Linked DNA regions of Homo sapiens. The protein of the gene in region 3 purifies or fractionates together with the protein of the main gene of each other region. This does not show direct contact. Each region holds a gene or a part of one and is shown on either strand. Other genes may lie near its edges.

Evidence for each region.
Region 1: the proteins of TBC1D15 (region 3) and ATF6B purify together in Homo sapiens (co-immunoprecipitation; 3 studies listed by BioGRID and IntAct, with this or other methods). This does not show direct contact.
Region 2: the proteins of TBC1D15 (region 3) and SLC30A9 purify together in Homo sapiens (co-immunoprecipitation; 3 studies listed by BioGRID and IntAct, with this or other methods). This does not show direct contact.
Region 4: the proteins of TBC1D15 (region 3) and UBXN8 purify together in Homo sapiens (affinity purification with mass spectrometry; 4 studies listed by BioGRID and IntAct, with this or other methods). This does not show direct contact.

The regions. Positions count from the first base shown.
Region 1 is NC_000006.12:32,118,217-32,125,246, forward strand, and holds part of ATF6B (cyclic AMP-dependent transcription factor ATF-6 beta), read right to left. Parts: intron 3,133-7,030; coding exon 3,047-3,132; intron 2,909-3,046; coding exon 2,773-2,908; intron 2,687-2,772; coding exon 2,555-2,686; intron 1,742-2,554; coding exon 1,608-1,741; intron 926-1,607; coding exon 740-925; intron 651-739; coding exon 559-650; intron 1-558.
Region 2 is NC_000004.12:41,986,637-41,993,550, reverse strand, and holds the start of SLC30A9 (proton-coupled zinc antiporter SLC30A9, mitochondrial), read right to left. Parts: upstream 3,022-6,914; 5' UTR 2,900-3,021; coding exon 2,791-2,899; intron 1-2,790. UniProt on the Homo sapiens protein: Mitochondrial proton-coupled zinc ion antiporter mediating the export of zinc from the mitochondria and involved in zinc homeostasis, zinc mobilization as well as mitochondrial morphology and health.
Region 3 is NC_000012.12:71,919,758-71,924,842, reverse strand, and holds the end of TBC1D15 (TBC1 domain family member 15), read right to left. Parts: intron 4,131-5,085; exon of another isoform or gene 4,113-4,130; coding exon 3,996-4,112; intron 3,476-3,995; coding exon 3,389-3,475; intron 1,861-3,388; coding exon 1,639-1,860; 3' UTR 530-1,638; downstream 1-529. UniProt on the Homo sapiens protein: Acts as a GTPase activating protein for RAB7A. Does not act on RAB4, RAB5 or RAB6.
Region 4 is NC_000008.11:30,739,557-30,747,191, reverse strand, and holds the start of UBXN8 (UBX domain-containing protein 8), read right to left. Parts: upstream 3,029-7,635; 5' UTR 3,003-3,028; coding exon 2,915-3,002; intron 2,865-2,914; coding exon of another isoform or gene 2,732-2,864; intron 1-2,731. UniProt on the Homo sapiens protein: Involved in endoplasmic reticulum-associated degradation (ERAD) for misfolded lumenal proteins, possibly by tethering VCP to the endoplasmic reticulum membrane. May play a role in reproduction.

The DNA.
Region 1 (7,030 bases), on a different chromosome or scaffold from region 3:
TAGAGCCTAGAACTCAGTAAGCACTTAATAGTCACTATTTCTACCAGCATTATCACCATCATCTACTCTCCACTGGAAAAATAATGGAGCAGGAGGCCGGGCGAGGTGGCTCAAGCCTGTAATCCTAGCACTTTGGGAGGCTGAGGTGGGCAGACTGCCTGAGCTCAGGAGTTCGAGACCAGCCTGGGCAACAACAGTGAAACCCTGTCTCTACTAAAAAATACAAAAAATTAGCCGGGCATGGTGGCGTGCGCCTGTAGTCCCAGCTACTTGGGAGGTTGAGGCAGGAGAATCACTTGAACCCAGGAAGCAGAGGTTGCAGTGAGCCGAGATCGTGCCACTGCACTCCAGCCTGGGCAACAGAACAAGGCTCCATCTCCAAGAAAAAAAGACAAATAATGGAGCAGGAAGGGGCTGGCCAGACACATCATCGGTGCCAAGGACACCAGAACCATTTGTATATAAGCAGAAGGAAATGGCCTGGGCCAAAGCAGGCAGCTAGGAGGCTGTAACGTGGGCTCCACCTGGAAGGTTCTAGTGAAGCAAGGAAGGTCTCACCTGACAGGTCCAAAGTTGAAGGCAATGAAGAGAAGGAAGACCATGATGCAGACCACCTTCCTGTTTCCAGACCCTAACTTGAGCTCGCTGTTCTAAGGTACAAAGAAGGAGACAAGAAAAAGGGGAATCATTCCAAGGAGGCTGTATTCCTGTTGGTCTCCCAGGGACAGACTGGTCTTACTTCAGCCAGCAGGGCCTCCAGCCGCCGCCGGAGGGCAGCATTCTCTCGGCGGAGCTGCTGGTTGTCAGCCAGTACTGCTTGCAGCCGAGCCTCCAGTCCCTGCAGATACTCTTTCTTCTTTCTCCGGGACTGGCAGGCTGACTCCCGGTTCTTGATCATTCGCTGCTGCCGCTTCAGCAGCTTTGCCTAGGCACCCGGAAGGTCAAAAAAGAATGACAGATGAGTTGGCAGAAGGAGACTATGCTCTCAAACCCCAAGGAATGATTTACCCAAAGCTCACATGGCCATTCCCCTGCCTTCCTGACCCACCTACATAGCCAGAGAGGTTTTTCCTCTCTACTCAAACACGCTAGGGAAGGGGCCCTTCTTTCAAACATTCCCTGCTACTGCTCCTCAGAGGTGGGAAAGGTTAGAGTGTGGGAAGAACTTTCTCCATGCTGGTGGAAACTCTTTCCTTCGTAACTCTTTCTTCCTGTCAGCCCACATTTGTAGGGTTCAAAGTTTAACCTTGTTATACTGCTTATACAGTTTACCTGATTTTCCCCTAGGAGGCAGCCTCCCTCCCCAACTATGGCCATGACCGTAGTCGTATAGTACAGTACGACTTCCTTGCCTTTAATTTATGGAGACCAACCCCATTTCTCCATCTGCAGTGACAGCAAACCTAAAGGACCCTAAAACTACCTGGAGTTGATATTCATATAGAAACAGGAGTCCATTCTGACCCTCAGAATGATCTAATGGGTCCGTTTCCTCACTTTTTTCTCCTAGGTATCGACTCCCTCCTCATCCCACAGTTCTCTCTATGGCAAGACTTCCCTCTTCCCTTCCCATCACTCGCCCTACTTCTCTCCTCCCCAACACTTACATCCACTTCAGGCGGGCAGGAGTTTCCAGGCATAGGAGCGGGAACGATGCTCTTCCTCTCAGGCCGTGGTAGAGAGGGAGCCGGCCCTTCAGGCTGGACTCGAATAGCACCCTGGATGAGGACAACTGGGGACACTGGGGCAAGTGAGCAGAGGTCAGAGGGCTGTGCGCTGGGTGGGGTCCTTGTGTCCACACCCACACAAGAGCACCCAAGGATTGGGCAGCCTCAATGGCTGCAAGCTCTCTGACAGGGTCAATGCAGCCCGCCTCCTTTTCTCCTTTTTTTCTTTTTTGAGATGCAGTCTTGCTCTGTCGACCAGGCTGGAGTGCAGTGGTGCGATCTCGGCTCACTGCAAGCTCCGCCTCCCGGGTTCACGCCATTCTCCTGCCTCAGCCTCCCCAGCAGCTGGAACTACAGACGCACGCCACCACGCCTGGCTAATTTTTTTGTATTTTTAGTAGAGACGGGGTTTCACTGTGTTAGTCAGGATGGTCTCGATCTCCTGACCTTGTGATCCGCCTGCCTTGGCCTGCCAAAGTGCTGGGATTACAGGCGTGAGCCACTGTGCCTGGCCTTTTTTTTTTAATTAATTAATTAATTTTTATTTTTATTTTTTGGTTTTTCTTTTTTCTTTTTTTTTTTTTTGAGACAAAGTCTCGCTTTGTCGCCCAGGCTGGAGTGCAGTGGCATGATCTCGGCTCACTGCAACCTCCGCCTCCTGGGTTCAAGTGATTCTCCTGCCTCAGCCTCCCGAGGAGCTGGGATTACAGGCGCCTGCCACCACTCCACGCTAATTTTTGTATTTTTAGTAGAGACAAGGTTTCACCACGTTGGCCAGGCTGGTCTTAAACTTCTGACCTCAGGTGATTCGCCCGCCTCAGCCTCCCAAAGTGCTGGGATTACCGGCGTGAGCCACCATGCCCGGCCCTTTTCTCCTTCTTCAGTACCTGGGGGTGGCTGGACGAGGGACTGCAGAAGGACTGTGGTGCTGGGAGGCACAGCTCTGGATGGCATTGGGACAGTGGTTAGCACTACAGGTTTGGGCTGCAGTGGCGGCTTCCGGGTGGGCAGGGCTTTGCCTGAAGGAAGGTGAGAGAAAAGAACAAGAAATGTCAGGACCAAAGGCCTCTCACTAGGGATTCCAAGTGTCAGGAGACTCCATTACCTGAGGAGCCATCAAGGGATGGGCCCATGCTGATCTGGACAGCTCCAAGTGAGGGGGCTGGGACATCCCACAGGAGGCATCCTGAAGGGGACAGGGACTCTGTCTTCACTTCCAGGACCTCCTCTCCTATAAAAGCCTATGTGGGGCATTCCAGAGATACATTAGTCAGGAAGAGTGTCGAGGAGAAGGAGCTGAAGAAGGGAAAGCTCTCATACCTCTAGGTCAGGAGGAACTCACTGGAAAACCTGGAGGAAGGAAGGAAGGTGGTGCTCACCTGGCTGGAGGAGTCGGCTGAGAGCAGGGAGGCCTCAGAGTTGACGGAAGAACATGGAGAGACAGGTTCTATCTTGGTCTGGACATCTGTGGGAGGCAGGATGAGGCAAAAGCTGGATATCATGTAAACACTGAAGGGTTAAGAGGGTTAAGATGGGAGGCTGGGCATGGTGGCTCACGCCTGTAATCTCAGCACTTTGGGAGGCCAAGGCGGGCAGATCACCTGAGGTCAGGAGTTCAAGACCAGCCTGACCAACATGGAGAAACCCCGTCTCTACTAAAAATACAAAATTAGTCGGGCATGGTGGCGCATCCCTGTGTCCCAGATACTCAGGAGGCTGAGGCAGGAGAATCGCTTGAACCTGGGAGGCAAAGGTTGCAGTGAGCCAAGATCGCGCCATTGCACTCCAGCCTGGGCAAGAAGAGCAAAACTCCATCTCAAAAAAATAAAAAAGAGGGTTAAGATGGGGAAATGGGTCCTTTCTCTTTGAACCTGAAAATAAAACTCTTCTGGCCCTAGATTACAGGCCATCCAGGAGGGGCAGTCACAGAGCTGCTCACCTGCTGGCTCTCCGCCCCGCTTTTCGCCTAGTGCTTCCCTTTCTCCTTTAGTGGCTCCTCTGATTTTTCTCATCCCTGCTCCATGTTCCTCAAAGCTGTCTTTGCCCTTCTGCGTTTCCCTCTTTCTTGTTCACAGAACTTGTCTATTCACATAGAATAGGCCTGAGCAGGGGAAGTGGCAGGGGGGTCTCCAGCATTCACATGGCCCAAATTCCTATCTTGCTGGATTTCCACCTTATCCCTGCCCAATGCATCTCCATGCTGACAACCGCCAAGTGTGCATCTCCCCCTGGCTGCTCACCTGCACCAGATTCTGACTTCCAAGCTGCCTGCTGGTCCCTTCCATTCTCATGCCTCACCAGTCACCCAAATCTAACTGGCCATAAATGAGGCTTCCTGATTGCCCCGTCACACAAGTTTTCCTCCCAGGCACCAAACAGCAAAGCCTCAGTCACCTCTGAGCCTCCATGGCCTCCAATAAATCTGCCTTTATGACTTGTTGATCACTCCATGAAAGAAAATGCTAGGCCCCATGTCGGTGAAATAAAACCCTTCTGAGGGCCAGATTCAGCCCACAGGTCAACAGTCCACCACTACCTCTGGTCCATACCGTTCACTTTGGTACTTAATTATATGATCACTAAGATTGCTTTTTAAAACTTCAATTTATATTTTTGAATAGATAATACAGTCATGATACAAATCCAAACGAACAAAGGAAAATTAAGTCAAAAAAAAAATCTTGGCGGGGCACGGTGGCTCACGCCTGTAATCCCAGCACTTTGGGAGGCCGAGGCAGGTGGATCACGAGGTCAGGAGATCGAGACCATCCTGGCTAACACGGTGAAACCCCGTCTCTACTAAAAAAATAGAAAAATTAGCCAGGCGTGGTGGCGGACGCCTGTAGTCCCAGCAACTTGGGAGACTGAGGGAGGAGAATGGCATGAACCCAGGGGGCGGAGCTTGCAGTGAGCCGAGATTGCGCCACTGCACTCCAGCCTGGGTAGAGCGAGACTCTGTCTCAAAAAAAAAAAAAAAAAAAACTTCCCTTCCCGGTCCTCCAGTCACTCAGATTCCCTACACAGAGATAACCACTATCAGAACTATTTAACCATGGCTGGGCATGGTGGCTCACGCCTGTAATCCCAGCACTTTGGGAGGCCGACACCCAACGCAGGTGGATTGCTTGAAGCCAGGAGTTTGACACCAGCCTGAACAACATGGCAAAACCCTGTCTCTACCAAAAATACAAAAAAATAGCCGGACATGGTGGCACGTGCCTGTAGTCCTAGCTATTAGGGGGGCTGAGGCAGGACAATAGCTTAAACCCAGGAAACGGAGGTTGCAGTGAGTGGAGATCACGCCAATGCACTCTAGCCTGGGTGACAGGGCAAAACTCTGTCTCAAAAAAAAAAAAAAAAAAAAAAAAAAGGGAACTATTTAACCATGATGTATTATAACCCTCACAAAACTCTCCAAAAGCAAGAACTATGTCTCATGTCCATTGAGGGTAAAGTACAGGCCCTCAAAAAATACCTAAGTATGGAGGAGAATCTGACTCTAATAACACTATGCAATGCAAAGCCACCAACAATCCTTACAATCCTTTTGCTGCTAATAGCAGTGGGCGATCTCGGCTCACTGCAAGCTCCGCCTCCCGGGTTCACCCCATTCTCCTGCCTCAGCCTCCCGAGTAGCTGAGACTACAGGTGCCTGCCACCATGCCTGGCTAATTTTTTGTATTTTTAGTAGAGATGGCGCTTCACTGTGTTAGCCCGAATGGTCTTGATCTCCTGACCTCGTGATCTGCCCGCCTTGGCCTCCCAAAGTGCTGGGATTACAGGTGTGAACCACTGTGCCTGGCCTGCTAATGGTATTTCAATCCTTATTTTGTGTATCTTTTTTATAACATGTATTAATCTGCTAGATATAATCTGTTTGTCCCTCCAAATCCACTTTCCATCCCTCCCTGCTGTGCTCCCTGAGATCCAGGGAGAATCTGAATGGACTGCATCAGCGGGCTCCCTGGTTGGAGTTCAGCCAGTGAGAGATGGTGCCAGGAGATCCAGAAGGTACTTTGAAATCAACAATCAACATGTCAACTGGGCATGGTGGCTTACGCCTGTAATCCCAGCACTTTGGGAGCCAAAGTGGGTGGATCACCTGAGGTCGGGAATTCAAGACCAGCCTAACATGAAAGAAGCCCTGTCTCTACTAAAAATACAAAATTAGCCAGGCGTGGTGGAGCATGCCTGTAATCCCAGCTACTCAGGAGGCTGAGGCAGGAGAATCGCTTGAACCCAGGAGGCAGAGATTACAGTGAGCCAAGATCACACCACTATTGCACTCCAGCCTGGGCAACAAGAGTGAAGCTCCATAACAACAACAACAACAGAATCAACATGTCCAACGCTGAATTCATCATCTTCCCTGACCAGAAAGCCCCTGCTTTTGCAGTCTCCATCCAGTGAACAGTAACATCACCCACCCACAGCCATCCTAGCCACAAACCTCTTTGACTCCTACCTCTCTCCAATGTCCAGGAGGTCACAACTCATCTATTCCACTTCATTCTTTCTCAAGTCTGCTTTCTTCATGACATCCGAATATCTTACTTGATCAACTGCATAAGCTTCTTCCTTGGTTCTCTTGCCTCTGGCCCTGCCCCTCTGCAACCCATTCTCTACTTTGCCACTAGAATCATCTTCCTAATCATATTACTTCCCTGCTTAATTCTCCAAAGGCCCCCACCTATCCACAGGATAAAAGCTAAGAGCCCCTTAGCAGGGGCCCCACCTGGCCCTGTAGCCCCTGCAGTTCCACATCACTCCCCAAATCCTTCTTACATCCACTCTGAAGAAATGCAGGGTCCTCAGACACAAGTCAACCCCCACACTGTCCTCCTGGCTAATTTCTACGTGTCCTTTAAAACTCTCAGGAAACCCTTCTTCCAGGGGCACATCCCAGATTCAGCGCCAATGTGGATGAAATGTCCCCTCTTATGAGCTTTCATGGTACCCTCTAGTGATTTTTTTTTTTTTTCCAGACGGAGTCTTGCTCTTTTGCCCAGGATGGAGTGCAGTGGCGTGATCTCGGCTCACTGCAAGCTCCGCCTCCCGGGTTCATGCCATTCTCCTGCCTCAGCCTCCCAAGTAGCTGGGACTACAGGCTAATTTTTTGTATTTTTAGTAGACACGGGGTTTCACCATCTTAGCCAGGATGGTCTCAATCTCCTGACCTCGTGATCCGCCCACCTCGGCCTCCCAAAGTGCTGGGATTACAAGCATGAGCCACCACACCCAGCCCCACCTCTAGTGATTTCTATCCTAGAATGACCACACCTGTATTGACTGGTACTTGTCTTTCTCCCATTACCAAATCACAGGGTTTGAAAGTCAGCATGGTGGTCAGGTCTTGTTCATCT
Region 2 (6,914 bases), on a different chromosome or scaffold from region 3:
CCTTTAAAGTCTCTGTTTTTCAGTATGGAACATTTTTGCATTTTTATTGGCCACTTGAACAACTTTATGAACTTTGTATTCAATTCCTTTGTCCATTTTCCTACTGGAATGTATACTGGTTTGTAAAAATTCTTTATAACTTAGATACTAACTCTAACTACACTATCTAATTGAGTAGTCACTGTTTACTGAGCACTTAAAACGTGGTTAGTCTGAACTGTGATGTGCTGAAAGTGTAAAATACTCACTGGGTTTTAAAGACAGTACAAAAAGATGATGTAAAATACTTCAATAATTTTGATATTGATTACATGTTGAAATATTTTGAATATACTTAATAAAATAGTATTAAATTTTATATATTTTATTATTAAAATATATAAATTTCGTTATTAAAATTAATTCTAGGATATATTAAAATTAATTCATCTTTAATTTTACTTTTTTTAATGTGGCTATCAGACAACTCAAAATTACAAACAGGGCTCTCATATTTCTTTTAGACAGTTTCTATTTTGCCTTTAAAGGCATTCCTCATTTTTAAGTATTCAAGCAATCCCTCAAGGTTTCCTCCTCTCCTTATGCTTTATAAGCTTTTCCCAGCCACAGGCATTTTAGAAGCATAAACTAAACCTTACTTCTAGACAAATAAAAACAACTGTTTTTAGATTTTCTTTCTCCAAAAGTTCTTCAAATAGTCTTCTCACATGCATCCAATTTAAATAGTACTCTTTTTCTAAATGATTTTTAAATTTTGCCATAATAATGGTTGCCCTTTTAAGAAATGCTTCATTACTGAAACTAAATTTTCACAAAGTTATTTTTAAAAACCTACTAAGCATTTTTAAGTGTAAAAAAAATTTTAATTTTTTGTAGTAATAAACATTCCAAACAACTTTGCAAAGTCATTTTGACCACTAAGGTAGGTAATAATTATCTGTGTTTCACAGACAGATGAGACAAAGAATACATAATTTTCAACATAATGACAGCTACACAGAAGAGGGATTACAAATTACACTGTTTCTTCTCCTTTTTGCCAACACTTAAAGGGCAGTTTAGACTAAATTTAACAGCCACTGTAATTTCAGTGTAAAATGCCAAAATTGCTTGGTCAATAGAAACAATTGTGTTAGAAACTTACTTGGGGATTCTGGAGTACAGTATAAACGTATGATTCATTTTTCTTTTTCTTTTCTTTTTTTTTTTTTGAGACAGGTCTCACTCTGTCACCCAGGCTGGAGTGCACTGGCATGCTCAAGGCTCACTGCAGCCTCAATTTCCTGGGCTCAAGCGATCCTCCCACCTCAGCCTCCTGAGTACAGGCTAGGATTACAGGCGCGCGTCACCAAACCAGGCTAATTTTTTGTAGAGAGGCAGTTTTGCCATGTTGCCCGGGCTGGTCTTGGAACTCCTGGGCTGAAGCGATCCACCCACCTCAGCGTCCTAAGGTTTACAATCTTCCTGAGGATTAGCAGCATGAGCCACTGCACCCAGCCGATGATTCATTCTGTCCATAAGGGAACCTGGCAGTATATTGCCAATATGGAAAAACTCAACAGTTACACTTTTCTATCACTACCAAAAAAGCCCTGGGAATAGTGCTGTTAAAATTTATCCGTTTGAAATTCTAAGATTCAGCTTTACATTTATTGCAAATAAAAGATACGAATATATTCTAATTTATATCCACAGCATAGTTACTATAGCTTATATTACATAAAATCTCGAATGACTGCAACTTCCGACTTCTTTCAGGAGGTCACGAACATGTTACAGGTTTTTTCAAACCTATGTTTTTACAGACAGCTCACTATGTTGCCAAGGCTAGCCTAGAACTATTGGGCTCAAAAGATCTGCCTGCCTCAGTCTCCCGAGTAGCTGGACTACAGGAGCGCACCACCACACCTGGCTTCGAACATGAATGTTTCGGTAAATACTCTCTGCATCCCAAGAATGGAGGGATTAGGTTAAGGGTGGACTTAGTTCTGTCTTCTCCCTCAGAGATCCTATCAGTTCTCAGTGTCAAGCAATGTGTGTCAAGCTACGGCAAAAACGAAGGTAAGCCTGATTAGTTCAATGTTATTTTGGAAACTCTCAAACCATTTAAATTTGAGTCAGAAAAGAATGTTGAGAGAGACGAAAATTCTCTTCAACCACCTTTTTTTCTGGGTTACCACTACAACTGCCACCTTTTCACCAAAAAGACTGCTCAGCCGAACTGAAGAGTTTCTTTGTTTTTCGGACCCAAACTGGGTTCATTCAATGATTGTCGGATACTTTCGTACTTCTTCCAAAAGATCCGTAGTGAGTAGCACCCCTCCTTCCTTTTAGAAAATTTAAGAAAATAAGTTGGGAGAGTAAGAAAAAGAAGGCCAAGAAAATCTCAACCAAGTGCTAAATGAAGGTGCGCTGGAAAGCTCCAAAGACCCTGGAACTTTGCGGAGTCCGCAATTTCCAACCGCGGAGGTGAGTAACCGCGGGACACCGCGATGCGCACGTAACATTTTGTTTGGTACAAAGCGGTAGGCTTCAGAGGTGCAATCCGGCCCGCGAGGTGCCCACAAGTTCCCGCGGGGGCCATGCTAGGGCTGCAGAAGGCATCAGAGTCAGAGACCTGTCAGGACCCCCGCGGGCTGCGCAGGCTGAACTGGAAAGGCGGAGGCCAGAAAGGAAGGTTCTGAGGTTGGCGAAAGGCAAGTGGGCGAATTGCCCCAGGCGAGGCGCCGAGCCCAGCCTGGCCCTCCAGTTCGGCTTCTACGGAGCCAGCGGCCAGCGCGGGACACTCACCCTGGCGGTCGCTGGGATTACAGGCCGCCGCCCTGCATCGCAGACGGAGCCGGCACAGGGAGGACCAGCTACATCTGTGGGCCGCGGCGGCGGCCAAGCCGGGTAACATCCTGGTGGGGCAGAGGCCCCTACTCGGACACCGCCTTCTGCCTCCGCGCCGCCACCGGTACCAACTGACTCCATAGACTGGACATCAGCGAACACCGATGGCTTCGCCGCCACAAGCTGCCTGGGTGACCCGGAAACGGCAACGTCATTTAGCGACGCCTGCCGTGGAGGTAGCGGAAGTGACGTAACACGTTGAGCACCAATAGGGAGGCCTTCCTTCCCGGGGACCCAGACTCCCAAAGTGGGGAGGGCGTGGCTGCAGGGGAAGTTTGGTGTCTGCCGTCTTCTTTTGCACCTGTACTTTTGCGCTTGGTTGGAAATCACGTAAACTGTTTACATCTTGTTCAGCCAGGAAAGCTGTCCTTTGGGAGTTCTACTTATTCCTTTTTTTCTGGACTCGAAACCGGGGCCGTGGTTTCGGAAATGGGAGGAAAGATGGGAAGGATGGACGCAGGTTTTCTGAGCCTCTCTACCTAGAGCCTGCCAGGATAAACCCAAATTAGAACCAACATGTCCAGTACTCTCCGAACGTCTGCCACGTACATCGTTCTCCTTGTTAACACCAGTGTGTATCCAGTATCATAAAGGCAAGTACACACTTCGGAATCAGCTACTTGCCCTACTAATCTGTGAACCTCAGATTTTTGCCTGCAATATAAGAGGTTTTATGTTCATGACAAGTTAGGGTAAACGGAGGTATGCAGACTTCGAAACATTTTGGTCCCAGGGAGAAAGAAACCTGAACAGTATCCACGTTAACTGTTTCTCTCTGCCATGCTCATTCAGCTCTTAACTCAAACTCAAGAGAGGCCTTCCTTGACCACCCTAGCTATGGTAGTCCTGGTCATTCTCTACCCGGCTGTCCTATATACTTTTCTTCAAAACGCTTATCACTATTTGAGATTTTTTTTTCTATTTTGTGTCCTAGAATAGAAAATAAGCATCATGATGCTGGAATCTTGTCTATTTTGTACATGGCTGTATAAAGCCGCTAAAACAATGCCTGGCAAAAATAAATTGAATGGAATGTATGGTGGTTTGTTTTAAAGTTAATCTGAGTCGCTTATCTATATTACTGCAAAATAACTATCTCGGGGAAATTTAGTATGTCCTTAATTTTTAAAAAAATCAACAAGTCTCTTATACTAATTGAGATAAGTATAACCAAATGAGGAAAGAGATTATCGTTAAGAATGGTAAGCAAATTTAATTTCCTATGACAAACATAACTTAAAATATTCAGTGGACAAACATTAAAAAATGATGTCCCATAAATGTAGGCTCAATATTACTAAAAAATCTGAATATTACTGGAAAGTTACTTTCCCTTTCTTGTAATAGATTTTAATAGAAATTCAACTTTATGAAGTAAAAATACATAAAGGCTTACCTCTTATTTTATGGTAACTATGCAAACATCTATTAACTTTTATGGATAATTCTTTTTGAACAAAACTAATCTCATATTTTGGATTCTTAAAATGGCTTTGGTTTCAACTCGTTTTAGGCAAGCCTGATCAAAACTTCTCAGGTTTTATTTTTAATTTGTGCGATAGGATTATTATTTTTATTTTGTTTAGCTGTACTAATCATTTTTAGAAGAAAATGTTCCTTTCTTGATAAAACTTTTAAAAAAAATACATTTTGTGCAGAGTTCTTAATTTCCATAACAGCCCACCTGATGTGTAAAATATGTTGGTGCACAGTAAAATTTCACAGTGTGTGCTTTCCTGTCCTTCTTTTTCCTGGTATAGTTGGGGTGTAACTTGACTTAGACACTACTAATTGTTATAAACCTCCAGTACCCTTGATTTGCCAAATAAGTTTGAAGAACAAAGTGTATCATTTTCTGTTACCTTAACTCTCACAATGCTGTATCACATAATAAAGCCTCAACAGACTTGGATTAAAATAACTCTGCAGTTGTCTTGGTATTTATACCTACATATCATGATATACTTATCCTTTTGGAAAGTCTTTGAAACTTCCCCAAGTGCTAAAACTTAAGATAATGTCAGTTTTAGAGTTCCTTAGGGGAATTTCCTTTGACCCTAAATCCCATCCTTACCAAGAGACTTTGTTTTTATGCTCCATTTGAGACACATTCAGCGTTGCCTACCTATACATAACAGGTAAGATTCTAGTATCATAGGGCTTATTTTCTATTGGAAGAGGCAGCAAATTTATAAATAAATATATTGATAATTTAAAACTAATAGCAGCAGTAGTAATATTAATCATTTACTAATTGCCAGGCCCTCTGTGTACACTGTCTCATTCATAATACCTTAAATAAGTTATAGGTAGACGAAGAAACCAAGGCACAAAGATCTTGATCTTAAACACCACTCTTTCTAAGTCAATGGGTACTTGCCTTTGGAAGAAAATGTGATGTCTTCTCAAAAGACTTGAATGATAATATGGTGTTCCTATTTTTTTTTTCCTGGAATGTAGGTTAAGAGAGAATTTCCCCAGATATTTTTTACTCATGTGATCAACATGGTATAAAATTGTCCAAGTTTCATGAGGATACATGATATAAATAGATGCCTAAATATAGGGAACTATTAAGTCAGATAGATAGAAACAGAAGTAGGAAAGGAGTGAAGTGTCATTTGATTATTACCATACACCATAATTCCTGCAAGGTTTTCCATTAACTCTGAAGAAGTTCCAACATCTTTCAGAAATTTGCTTGTGCAATTGAGCTAACTACTATTGCTTGGTTTCATCCTGTCTATAGCTTTGGGAAAATAACTCTGATCTTGAGACAAACTTGACTGGTTATCTGGAAAACTGACTTAGATAATCCATTACAAAATAAAGTAAGTGGCTCTATCATGAGGCTTACCAAAAACACAAATTTAATTTTGAACACAGACATACTTGTTGTCATCACGTTTTGGCGATTTTTTTTTTCTTTGCCTCTAGGAGTGGGGGAGGAGGGAGCTTGCCCACCTGAACACTTCAATAAGAAAATGGCCCAGCCTGGCCAACATGGCAAAACTTTTTCTCTACTAAAAATACAAAAATTAACTGAGAGTGGTGGTGCACACCTGTAATCCCAGCTACTCGGGAGGCTGAGGAATAAGAATCACTTGAACCCAGAAAGTGGGGGTTGCAGCGAAACGAGATTATACCACTGCACTACAACCTGGGCAACAAAGTGAGACTCTGTCTTGAAAAAAAAAGAAGCAAGAAAGAAAATGGCTTATAGCCAGGTGCTAGTGGCTCATGCCTGTAATGCCAGCACTTTGGGAGGTTAAGGCAAGAGGCCAGAAGTTCAAGACCAGCCTGGGCAACACGATAAGATCCCATCTGTACCAAAAAAAAACAAACAGAAAACAAAACTGGCTTATACATGGGTAAAAAGAATTACCTGGTCACACCCCCTCTCCTGTACAACAATGGTCAGAAGCAATAAGGGTCTGCACAGACACATTTGGCCTGTAAAGGCAAACATGCAAAAGAAATGAAACATGCACTTGATGTGGTTTCTGACCAGGTCTGACCAGGTTGCTAATCCTCGTCTCCATTTTTCAGAGAGGTGAAAGGTTTTTTCTACAGTTCACTTAGCAAGAATGTCACAGAAGATGGAATCAGACTCAGGTCCTCTAACTCCAAATCAGTTTACATGGTTGAGTGAGCATTGCAGAGGAGGAGAGAAGGAAGGAGTGGCTTGTTCTTACAGGTTTTCCCTCTGACATTATCCTATGAAATTACTTGTGGGATTTTTTTTGTCACAATTATCTTGTCAAATAGCCATTTAGTAGTCCACTACCATTAAACTTACGTTCACTCTTTGCCACTTCCATCCAAGAAAAGGAGAATGATTTCTCCAATGATAACTGTATTCCTGGATCATAGCTCTCTTATTCAACACTTCTTAGCTTCTCCAATAAAAGCTCCTTCTCTGCAATTTACCTGGTATGGTGGAGAAAAAATTACACATACACACACTTTTCCTTAGAGGGTAGTGAACAAGATTCATATTACAGCTGGAATAATTGAGTTAT
Region 3 (5,085 bases):
GGGGTTTCACCGTTTTAGCCGGGATGGTCTCGATCTCCTGACCTCGTGATCCGCCCGCCTCGGCCTCCCAAAGTGCTGGGATTACAGGCGTGAGCCACCGCGCCCGGCCAGATTATCATTTTAATCATATAAAAATAAGAGATGAATTGAGGTCCATCTTGGATGTTTTTTCTTCTATTAAAGAATTAGCCGGGCACAGTGGCTCACACCTGTAATCTCAGCACTTTGGGAGGCTGAAGCGAGTGGATCACTTGAGGTCAAGAGTTCGAGACCAGCCTGGCCAACATGGTGAAACCCCATCTCTACTCAAAATACAAAAATTAGTCAGGCGCGATGGCACAAGCCTGTAGTCCCAGCTGCTCGGGAGGCTGAGACAGGAGAATCGCTTGAACCCAGAAGGCGGAGGCTGCAGTGAGCCAGGACTGCGCCACTGCACTCCAGCCTGGGCAACAGAGCAAGACTCTTTCTCAAGAAAAAAAATTTTAAAAAAGCAGACTATTTCTAAGTATAATTTAACTAAAAACACTACTTCAACTTCAGATTTATTTTAATGATATATACAGGAGTTAACAACTTACAATTAAAACAAAATCAGTTATGTTAATTCCACATAACTTAAAATCATGCAATACTGCATGGTAAAAACAACAGCTTTGTTCATACACAAAAATTATTATTTTGAAACTCATGAGACCATCTAGAAATTTTTCAAATAAACTTTTTGCAAGAGTATTTTATAAAAATTTAAACACCTGATTAATCAGTTAATGCATTATTAGGAAAGATAATAAACATTATTAGTAAAGTGAGGTTACAAGCAATTAATTTTAAAATTACACCAGGTACAGGGTTGAACATAATCTCATGAAATAAATGTTTAAGAAAATAGTTTTGAAAAAGATCTCATACTGAAGCCATGTTAAATTTTGATAAACCAGGTTATATAAATCAAGTCGTTTATTCAGTTAATGAAAATATGCCTAACCTTTCTTATACTCATAAATAAGTACTTATATATAATCTTTATATACAAGTGAAGAAAAGTTCAATGTAAAAAATATACTGCCAATCCACTTATTATGGTTGAAATATTTATCTACACATTAGACTGCATTGATGAAAATGTCCAATTTAAATCACATTTGACCAGCATAAATATTTAAGCTGAGTACTGTCGTAAACAATAGAGAAAAAAATCCTTTTATTTTTATTTTTTATTTCATTACTGGGTAACAATCTACTTCTCAGCTTAGAATGCTATAGAAAGCCTCCACATTTAATTTAATCAAATCTGAAACCCAATAAGCTTAAACAAAGTGAATGTTTTTCAAAGTGCATAATTTCCAACTCATCCACTTGCAATATTTATCCAATTCCAGTTCATCAGCAAGAAAATAAAATGTACTTGGCTATAAAAATACTGAGGAATGTTATCGAAAAGGAAAGGCTATTTGGTAGAAGTAACTACAAAAATAATTAGTTTAAATCTTTGTAAAGCTTTAATGTAAGAACATCAGTACACTTTCTTTACATAAACCTTAAAGCATGATCAATACCAAGATTTCAAATTTTCAACTTTCAAGTACTTGAAAAAGGGTTGCAACAAAGTGTCTCTTCCCAAAAAAGCAAGAACAGTGATCATGCAGGTGTTAATCTGCAGACATCTGAGGACACTGGTATCTGTGTTGGGCTGTCATTTCTGGCTCCACTGGCAGAGAGTGTAGGCAAGGCATTACTTTGAAATGCAGATGTAGGACAAGGAGTCATGACAACATTTTCGTCTTCACCAACGTCTGAATCTGGTGTTGTAACTTCACTGCCTTGAAGCCCAAGGATCTCACAGACTGCTTGTGGCAATTCCTGGATATGAAAAATCAAACTCAAAACCATATTTCACTACAGAGGAAAAATAACCACAAAGTAACACTTCTGTTTAAGACTACATTGATTCCAGAATCTGAGCATTTGTCCTAACAGTGTAAATGTCATGTACCCTTCTCACAACATTTTTCTCAGCTCCAAATGAAATGCTAACCACCTTTCGCCCTAAGTGGTTCTTGGATATCTTCCAAATTAGTCACTCTCCATCCCACCTCCACATTCCCACAAACATAGCATGTCCTAATATTTGGCATTTATCTCTTTCTACTTTTTGTAATAATATCTTTCTTAGATCATCTGTCTCTCTCAGTAAACAAAGTTCTTCAAGGCAAGAAGTATCTCATTGACATGCTTTGGAAGAGAACAGGTATCAAATAAATGTTTGTAGAACTGAACCAAGTAACAGTTTGGATCAATGAACAAATGATACAAGGACCAAGCAAGAATTTTCATAAAAATGCAAAGTCATAAGGGGTGCAGCAAACCAATGTGGCACATGTATACCTATGTAACAAACCTGCATGTTGTGCACATGTACCCTAGAACTTGAAGTATCAAAAAAAAAAAATGCAGTCATGGCCGGGCGTGATGGGTCACGCCTGTAATCCCAGCACTTTGTGAGGCCGAGGTGGGTGGATCACCTGAAGTCAGGAATTCTAGACCAACCTGGCCAACATGGTGAAACCTCGTCTCTACTAAAAATACAAAAATTAGCCAGGCATGGTAGCAGGCACCTGTAATCCTAGCTACTCGGGAAGCTGAGGCAGGAGAATCGACTGAACTCAGGAGGAGAAGGTTGCAGTGAGCCGAGGTCACGCCACTGCATTCCAGCCTGGACAACAGAACAAGACTCTGTCTCAAAAAAAAAGCAAAGTCATGAGGTGGGCACAGTGGTGTGCATGCACTGGTAATCCCAGCTACTCAGGAAACTAAGGCAGGAGGATCACTTGAGCCCAGGAGTTCAAGGCCAGCTTGGGCAACTTAGCAAGGCCCTTTCTCTTAATAGAAAGAAAAAGCTAAAACACATCAAAAGTATACTGCTTTGGTTCAAATTCAGATAATACATCAAATTTGCCTTGTTTTAAAATAATTAATAACTTGACTAATATAAGTGAGTGACACAGGCTAAATAATATTGATTTAATTATTTCTGATTAGCATTCATTTTTGTTTAGAGATTCTGCATATTTAATATGACAGCCTATTCTGCATTCATGAGCTCAACTGGGTAATATATCATTGCTGAAATTCTACAGCCTCTTTGTTATAGAAATATTTTCATTACTTTTACCATTTTGCCTTATTATTAGCTGTTTCCTATCTGCCATAGTCAACTGTTTTCAATTAAGTGCTGTAAATCTAGAACAGCAAACAAAAAGCCAGCCAATACTTTGTGCCTGCCCTCAGCTTACTAAAGTTGCTATTTTATTTCCAAGAAGAAAAATCTTTCTTGATCTCAACCCACCAAAAACAAACAAATCTTGCAATTACTTGAAACACTGTATACCTTGCATTTTACCATCTGTAGAGAAATTGCTTCTGCCTTGCAGAGTATATCTTCCACATCAATTTTCATGGACAATTCATTGATATGCTAAAAAGTATCAACAAAATAAAATGATATCGAAACTGAATACACTATTATATTCTATTATATAAACAATTTATTACCAGTTATATTTCACTGCAGATAAAATCCTTAAAATAAAAACATTCATATACTACAAATACGTAAGAAATTCAATATATCTTTCTTTAGATTATTTCAAGTTTTAAAGCTAAAGACTAGCTAATAAGCTTATGGAACATTAAATCCAGCAGCTATTCCAAGTCTGATATCTCAAAGTTATAATCAAAAGACAATTAATTTTTGAAAAACTAAACTACATAAAAGAGCACTTGTTGAATTTCCTTTTCTTCCTAATTAGCCAGGTAAAAATAACTGGCCAATATGTATTTGAACTGTCATTCTCAGATAGTCATTCCTAGCACTGTTATTGACACAATTTAAGTTACTCAAGAGATTTAATAATGTTCCAAGGAAACGTTCTGTATATCAGGACCACCAAATAGAAAAGCCAGAACACTAAAATCTGAATTAAAGGAATAACTACCTTAAGTATTTCATTGAAGCCATAATGCTTTTCCATTATTTGCTGCTTTTCTGATTCCAGAATAGCACAACAGAGAAGAAGATGGAAATTTGTACATGGTAGTTCGGTCCACATTACCTATAGAAGGCAGAAGAACTATTTTGCAAATTGTATCAATTCTAAAACATTTTCCTCACAGATACAATTCTGAACACTGAATGACTTCTATGCAAAGTAGATGTTGCCTGTTTAGGGTAGCCCAAGGTTTTTCTAGCTAGGAAATGAGGGGAAGGAGAGTCTTACCTTCAGCTACAAAGTAACTATCATCGAGTTTATATGAATATGATATATTCTAAATGTGGCTCTTTAAGGTAACTATAGTAAGTAAATTACTGAGCCTAACCAGTATGATAAATGTTATTAATGCAGGAGCTACAGACACAAGGTTAAGGTGTAAGGGTTAGATGTATTTTCAATATTTTTCTGAAGTATCAGTTTCTCACTTCGATCTGAGAAAAGACTAAAGCTAAGTCCTGGAAATAAAAAAAGGTTCAGTTACACAGTACATGGAATCAGAAACACCCAGAGGTAGCTCTACATTCTAAATACGTAAAACCCTTGTATCACATTTTATCCCTGATTGTGACAATAACTGAATTAACTGCCCCAAATTTATAACCAAACATAGAAAACGCTTGATCAACAGCTCAGCTGTTCCTAAATACAGATAATATCCTCGAATTTAGGGTCTTAATTTCCCCCTGCTTCATGTACCTAATAATATATTTTCCACAAAGATAAAAACACCCACACAAACCATACCATGAGATCATACCCGAAATGTGTTTACTTCTTTCAAAAGGAGTAAATCAAGTTGAATAATTTTCAAACTAAACCCAATTGTTGAAAGTTTAATTACAATGCAATTAACCTCAAAGGTTTCATTAAAAGTTTGAATTTATTTAGTAAACACAGATTGAGGAGTTATTCTAGCTATGTGGTAATAATATTCTTAATTCATCCTTTAAAACCCATTTATGCCTGAGGATGCAATTTTTTGAATTTTTCAATCAGACCTTGGTGATGACCTTGAGCAGTAGGATATAAACAA
Region 4 (7,635 bases), on a different chromosome or scaffold from region 3:
AAAAAATTTTAAGGTTTTTTCGTTTTTGTTTTTGTTTTGAGATGGAATCTCACTCTGTTGCCAGGCTGGAGTGCAGTGGTGTGATCTCGGCTCACTGCAACCTCCACCTCCCGGGTTCCAGCGATTCTCCTGCCTCAGCCTCCCAAGAAGCTGGGACTACAGGCGTGCGCCACCATGCTCCGCTAATTTTCGTATTTTTAGTAGAGACAGCGTTTCACCATGTTGGCCAGGATGGTCTCGATTACTTGACCTCATGACTCGCCTGCCTCGGCCTCCCAGAGTGCTGGGATTTTTTTGTGTACTTAAACTATAGACCCCATAAGCAGTGTACTTCAACGTGAGGAACTGGCCTTAAAATATTTAGCTTAGTCAGGGCGCGGTGGCTCACGCCTGTAATCCCAGCACTTTGGGAGGCCGAGGCGGGTGGATCACAAGGTCAGGAGTTGGAGACCAACCTGGCACAACATACCGAAACCCCGCCTCTACTAAAAATACAAAAAAATTAGTCGGGCATGGTGGTGCATGCCTGTAGTCCCAGCTACTCAGGAGGCTAAGGCAGGAGAATCGCTGGAACCCAGAAGGCGGAAGTTGCAGTGAGCTGAGACTGCACCACTGCACTCCAGCCTGGGTGACAGAGTGAGACTCCGTCTCAAAAAAAAAAAAAAGAAAAAAAAAATCTAGCTTAAGTACAAGTAAAATGTATTGACAATAAAGGTTTTTACACAGTAGAAAAAGACAAGGCTAGTTTTTCAATATATGTCTGAATATCAGTATAGGCATAACCAGCCCTGCTGCTGGTATAAAGTATGATGTATAAAACAGACTTAAATACTGTTAAGAAATAATTATTGGAAGCTCACTATCAAGAATCCAAAGGTAGCAGAAAAAAAAAGGAAAAAATATATATTAAAAAAAGAAAACTGAAAAGAGGAAACAATCCAAAGGAAACAATCATTCGTTCAGAATTCTGAGAAAGAAGCTAATCCCATGAAAATTTCAAGAACTAGATAAAGATGCTGCCAGGAGCCCAGGTGCAATTTATAGAACCCTTGTCCCTAGTTCTATTAAACTAGACACTGGTAAGTGCTGGGAATACAAAAACAAATTCCATTTGGTCTCTGCCTTCAAGAAGCATATTTCTGGCTGGGCACGGTGGCTCACACCTATAATCCCAGCACTCTGGGTGGCCGAAGTGGGTGGATTGCTTGAGCCTAGGAGTTCCAGACCAGCCTGGGCAACATGGCAAAACCACATCTCTGCAAAAAAATACAAAAAATAAGCAAGGCATGGTGGTGTGGCCCCTGTATTCCTAGCTACTCAGAAGGCTGAGGTGGGAGGATCACTTGAGCCGGGAAGTCCAGGCTACAGTAAGCCATGACCGTGCCACTGCACTGCAGCCTGGGTGACTGAGCAAGACCTTGTCTCAAAAAATAATAAATGAGCAGAGTAGGGGTGGATGTTGAAAAGACAAGGGAACAGGTGAATTGCGGAAATGGTGAGTGTGAATTCAACATTTCTGATCCTTTGGATAAAGGTCTTGTTATATTCCAACACAGCTTGAGTGAGTGAGAAGCTTCAGGACAGTCTTTGTACATTTTTTTAAAGCATTTTATTTTCATTTCTTATTGCACGCAACATTTCTAGGCATCTGACTCCTTGTGAGCAGGGAGAAAATGTGGAGAAAGAGAGGGAGTACACAAAGCCAAGTTTCATTATGGTCTCTAACTTTAGAATTGACCTTAAAAAGGGAGACAGACATGTAAACTGATCACTGAAATGTCCAAAAATCAACTCATGATTCTCAGCATCTCCACAGTTTTTCTTTCCATTTCCCCTTTACCAGTAGCACTACCAAATACCTAGGTTTGCTCAGTCCCCCATGAGGCAGTCGTCCTTGAATCCTTCCTTTCCCTTGCCCCAAACATCAACCCATAAACAAAGCCTGTTGGTTGATCCTACTCCGTCAATATCCCAATTCTGTCTACATTTCATCTCCTGTTATTGTTCTAGTCCAGGCCATCATCACCACTTGTCAACTTCCAAAGCCTGATGTGCCTCACTGCTTCCACCATAGCTTCTGTCCAAAGCATTCTCCATACAGAATCGAGTGACCTTTTTAAAACTTAGGGAAGTCACTTAACCTCCCTAAATTTTAGTTCCCTCAACTGTAAAATGGGGATTATAATAGTGCCTACCCTCCTCTGATTGCAGTGCAGATTAAATGAGATAATAACCAGCACCTGGTGTTTGGCTTATAATAGGTGTTCAATAAACGTCATTATCCTGAGCCAATTCCTCCTCCTCCTCCTCCCAACTCTCCTTGATTCAGCCACAATGGCCTTCACCTTTTCCTCCAACGTGTCACAATCTTTTTGCCTAAAATATTCCTCCCCTCCCCCATCCCTTCCCTGCCCCCACTGGCTTTTCACGGGCGTGGCCCCTTATTTAAACCTAGGGCCGGGCGCAGTGGCGTAGGCCTGTAATCCCAGCACTTTGAGAGGCCGAGGCAGGAGGATCTCTTGAACCCAGGAGTTCGAGACCAGCCTGGGCAACATAGTGAGACCCTGTCTCTAAAAACAAAACAAAAAACTTCTCAGCCTAAATTCTCACAAGACCTTCATCTTATCAACCTGTTTATTTCCTTTTCAGTGTTCGCCAGGATGCGAAAGCACTGTCTATGATTGCCCCTGTGCTCTTTGCCTCTACCCTCTTACACGTAAAACCATCACACCTGGAGGGAAAAGGTTCCTCGAAGTGAAGTCAGCTCCGGAAGTGGGGGGGCAGGGGCGATGCAGTCTGGGAGTTGTAGTCAAAGCTGCTCCGAAGCCACGCAGCCGAAGAGGCGGTCGTTCTATGCAACATTCCTGTGAAAATTACCCAGCTGTGACTGTCGAAGGGAAAAAGTCACACTTACCTATATCCGGGATCCCACGCCGGAGCTCCAGACACACAAGGGGGACAGCAGAGAGGAAGAAAATGCCAACAACCCCACGTGAAGCCATGGTGGCGGAAGCGCCTGGTGCAGGCGGAAAGCCCGCCCCTTCCGGCCGCGTTTTCCGGGAAGGAAGTGGAACTCTTCTTGCCGCGGGCCGGCTGGGAGAGGGTCAATAACGTGGTAAATACTGACGGCCGTGTCGTTATTGAGGGGGAGCTAAGCCCCGTGTTTTAAAGTTATAGTCTGTAGCCGTGTTTCAGAAGAAAGGCAAGTCGTCCCCCAAGTCACATGATGTCCAGAGGAGCCTGGGCTCTAGAGCGGTGGCTCCCTGGAGGGTAGCAGGGCAGGGGCTGCCCCTTCGGTCTTTGCAGCGTCTGTGAGAAAGCGCTTTCCAGAGGGAAATGAAGCCGAAGAAAAAGCTGATGCTGTGAGGAGGCAGCCTGGGCCCCCCGGCCTTGTGGCCGTATAGGATGAATGTGGGCTATAACACCTTCCTTATCTCCCTAACGGTTCCTGGTTCCTGGCCCCGTCCGCAGTCTCTGGTTCCTGCGGAAAGACAACTCGAAAGTGGGGCCTGGCTCCAAATACCTGCCCCCTAACACGCACGTCCTAATGCCAGGTCCTGGAGACCCGCTACCCCTTGTTCCGCCCCTTTTCAGTTTTGCCTGCACGCGTTATTGTTAACCTTGACTTCATAGTTCCATGACCTCATTGCCGTCCTATAACTCACCACTGTGCACTTCTCCCAAGCTACTGAGGTCCTCCCAATCTACAACATTTCGTACTTGGAAATTATCTTTCCTGGCCAGGCGCGGTGGCTCACGCCTGTAATCTCAGCACTTTGGGAGGCCGAGGCGGGCGGATCACAAGGTCAGGAGTTCCAGACCAGCCTGGCAAATATGGTGAAACCCCGTCTCTACTAAAAATACAAAAATTAGCCGGGTGTGGTGGCGGTCGCCTGTAATTCCAGCTATTCGGGAGGCTGAGGCAGGAGAATTGCTTGAACCCGCATGCGGAGGTTGCTTTGAGCCGAGTTTGCACCACTGCACTCCAGCCTGGGCGACAGAATGAGACCCCGTCTCAAAAAAAAAAAAAAAAGAAAGAAAGAAATTATATTTCCTGGCTAAGCGCGGTGGCTCACGCCTGTAATCCCAACACTTTGCAAGAAAAAAGAAAATTCTTTTTCCTGACCCATCCATCTAGCATCCCACCTGACTATTCAGTTTAGTTCATCTGAAATTTATTGAGCTCCACAGTTTGGTACTCTACAACTCTTGGATATTCAAATATTTACAAGTTACTGAATTTGTCCTCAAGAAACTCAGCTTATCCGACTTTGTGGTTCTATGGAGAAGAAAAAAAAAAACTGGGAAAGATAGCCCTGTAAGCAAATAAACATAATGCAGTTCCTGAGTGCTATGATAGAGATATACACAGGGTGTTGCAGAACCATACCCAGAAGGCTTGCAAAAGGCTTTCCAAAAGGAAGTCACGCCTACGTTGTGTTCAAAGGTTAGGAATCTGGGCAAGGATGTCCGGGAAGGGTGGGATTTCAAGTTTAGGAACCTGAGTGCAAAGGAACTACCAGTGATTATTGCTGCAGTTTAGAGCTTGAGGCCGGGCGCGGTAGCTCACTCCTGTATTCTCAGCACTTTGGGAGGCGGAAGGAGGCAGATTGCTTCAGCTCAGGAGTTCGAGACCCCTCTGGGCAACATAGCTAAACCTGTCTAAAAAAAAAAAATAGCTGCGCGTGATGGCGTAGCCTGTGCTCCCAGCTACTCAAGAGGCTGAGGTGGGAGAATCACTTGAGCCCAGGAGGTCAAGTCTGCAGTGAGCTGAGATCATGCCAGTGCACTCCAGCCTGGGCGATATAGTGAGACCCTGTCTCTAAAAATAAAATAAAGCTGAATGAAGGCTTTTAGAGGTAGATTGTTGCTAGGGCCGCAGAGGCTTTCCTTTGTATATAGGCTAAGAACTTTATCCTCCAAGCAAAGGTGCAAAATATTAGGGCACAATCTGAAGATCAGTAAGGGTGAGGTAATATAAATTACAGCATGACATACCATAAAATAATTAATTATATTGACTAGTTCAGATGTTCCCATAGTTGTCTGTATCTTGTGTTCATCATGCATAAGGAGGAAGACAGGAAAGAAAGTTCTACAGTCTGTATCTTGTGTTCATCATGCATAAGGAGGAAGACAGGAAAGGAAGTTCTACAGTTCTTAACCACCTACCTCCTGTATTTTTTTCTTCCTCCCTGGTCTTCCATATTACCTAATTTAATCTGTTGATGGCGCCATTGAATCTCTCTCTGGACTACAAAAGGCAGTTCCTAACCAATCCAAATTTACCTTGTCTTAACATATGGGAAGCCAGCATTTCCCAAACTTTGTTGTTTGTGAACTCTCTTCACTGCAACTGCTAGCTCTCCCCACCAAAGACCACCAGAATAACCTGTCAGTAAGTAAATTTGAGTTTCTTACAGCATTAGAAAAGAACATTGTGGCCGGGCGCGGTGACTCACGCCTGTAATCCCAGCACTTTGGGAAGCCGAGGTGGGTGGATCACCTGAGGTCAAGTTTGTGACCATCCTGGCCAACATGGTGAAACCCTGTCTCTACGAAAAATACAAAAATTAGCCTGGCATGGTGGCTCACACCTGTAGTAACAGCTCCTCGGGAGGCTGAGGTACCAGAATCACTTGAACTCAGGAGGTAGAGGTTGCAGTGAGATCATACCACTGTACTCCAGCCTGGGCAATAGAGTGAGACTCAGTTTCAAAAAAAAAAAAAAAAAAAAGAACATTGCTTTGACATAATCTTAGTCGTGTCTCAGAGGGGACGTCAAGGGTGATTTTTATTTGTTTATGAGACAGGGTCTCACTCTGTCACACAGGCTGGAGTTCAGTGGCACAATCACAGCCCACTGTAGCCTTGACCTCTCAGGGTCAAGCAGTCCTCCTGCCTCAGCCTCCAGAGTAGCTGGGACTGCAGGCACATGTCACCATGCCTGGCTAACTTTTTTATTTTTTCTATAGACAGGGTTTCACCATGTTGCTCAGGCTGGTCTTGAACTCCTGGGCTCGAGCAATCTGCCAGCCTCGGCCTTACAGAGGGCGATTTTTATAGGGTTCTATAGTCTAGTTAGAGTGGTTTAAGGTGGTCTTTTCAATATGGAGATTTCACTGGGATTGGACATAGTTCATGGTAGAATAGTTTGAGACGGTACACCCAACAAGGTGAAGAAATTGAAGTTAGATTTTCCCTCTTTTTTGACAAGGAAGGTGATTTGCCCAATTCAATGATCAGCTCAACTTCTCAGTGCCTGAGAAGGAAGCTTTGCAGCCTGATGAGCAACTTAGAGACCAGATAAATGGGAAGTTCCTAAAGCTCAGAATGAAGGTATGGATTGACCTATAGCCTATCTTCGTGAGTAAGAATTCCTGGAACAGTAAAATCAGGTTGATTTAGAGCTCTTAGTTCTCATTGGTGATTGTTAAGCTGTAAGTTACTGGTGTCTCCATTCTCACCAAAAGGGTCTCACTCTTGTCACCCAGGCTGGAGTGCAGTGGCACAAGCATAGCTCACTGCAGCCTGGAACCCCTGGGCTCAAGCGATCATCTCACCTCATCCTCCTGAGTAGCTGGGACTACAAACACATGCCACCATGACTGGCTAATTTTTATTTTTTCTTTCCTTTCTTTTTTTTTTTTTCCAGGAGATGGGGTCTTACTATATTGTTCAGGCTGATCTTGAACACCTGGTCTCAAGTGATTCTCTAGCGTTGGCCTCCCAAAGTGCTGGGATTACAGGTGTGAACCACCGCGCCTGGCCTGTTTTCTGCTCCTTAATTGCCTTTGGCCAAAAAATAATTTTTATCTCAAAGAGGCATATCTTGGGGTGGCACCTTCTGGTTTCCTTCACATACTTCATATGATATACATACTTCATCGTGCATATCATTAAACACAATGAAATGGACACATCATGAGCATACCATTCCTTGAGTTCCAATGTATGCATACCCAGTGCAACCTAAATCCCAAGCAAGATACAAAGCACTGACTGACCGTGGCGGCTCATGCCTGTAATCCCAGCACTTTGGGAGGCTGAGGTGCCCAGGAGTTTGAGACCAGCCTGGACAACATGGTGAGACCCCATCTCTACAAAAAAACACATTTTTTAATTAGCTGGGTGTGGTGGCATGCACCTGTGGTCACAGCTACTCCAGAGGCTGAGGCAGAAGGATCACTTGAGCCCAGGAGGTGGAGGCTGCAGTAAGCTGTGTTTGTGACACTGCACTCCAGCCTGGGCGACAGAGAGAGACCATGTCTCAAAACAAAAAGCAAAAAGCATTGCACAGAGAGCAAGCATTGCTCTGATTTTTTTCCACCATAGGTTAATTTTGCCTCTTCTAGGACTTCTGTAAATTATACAAAATGTACTCTTTGGATAAGGCTTTGTTCACACTGTATGCTTTTTTAAACATTTTATGAGATAATTATAAATTCACATGTTGTTATAAGAGGTCACGGAGATTGCATAAATCCTTTACCATTTCCCCCAGTGTTAAAATTGTGCATAAGGACAGTATAATACCATAAACAGGAAATATATATTGACACAATCCAGTGACTTCATTCAGATTTTACCAGTTACAGATACTCATTTGTGTGTGTGATTTAGTTTTTTTATTTT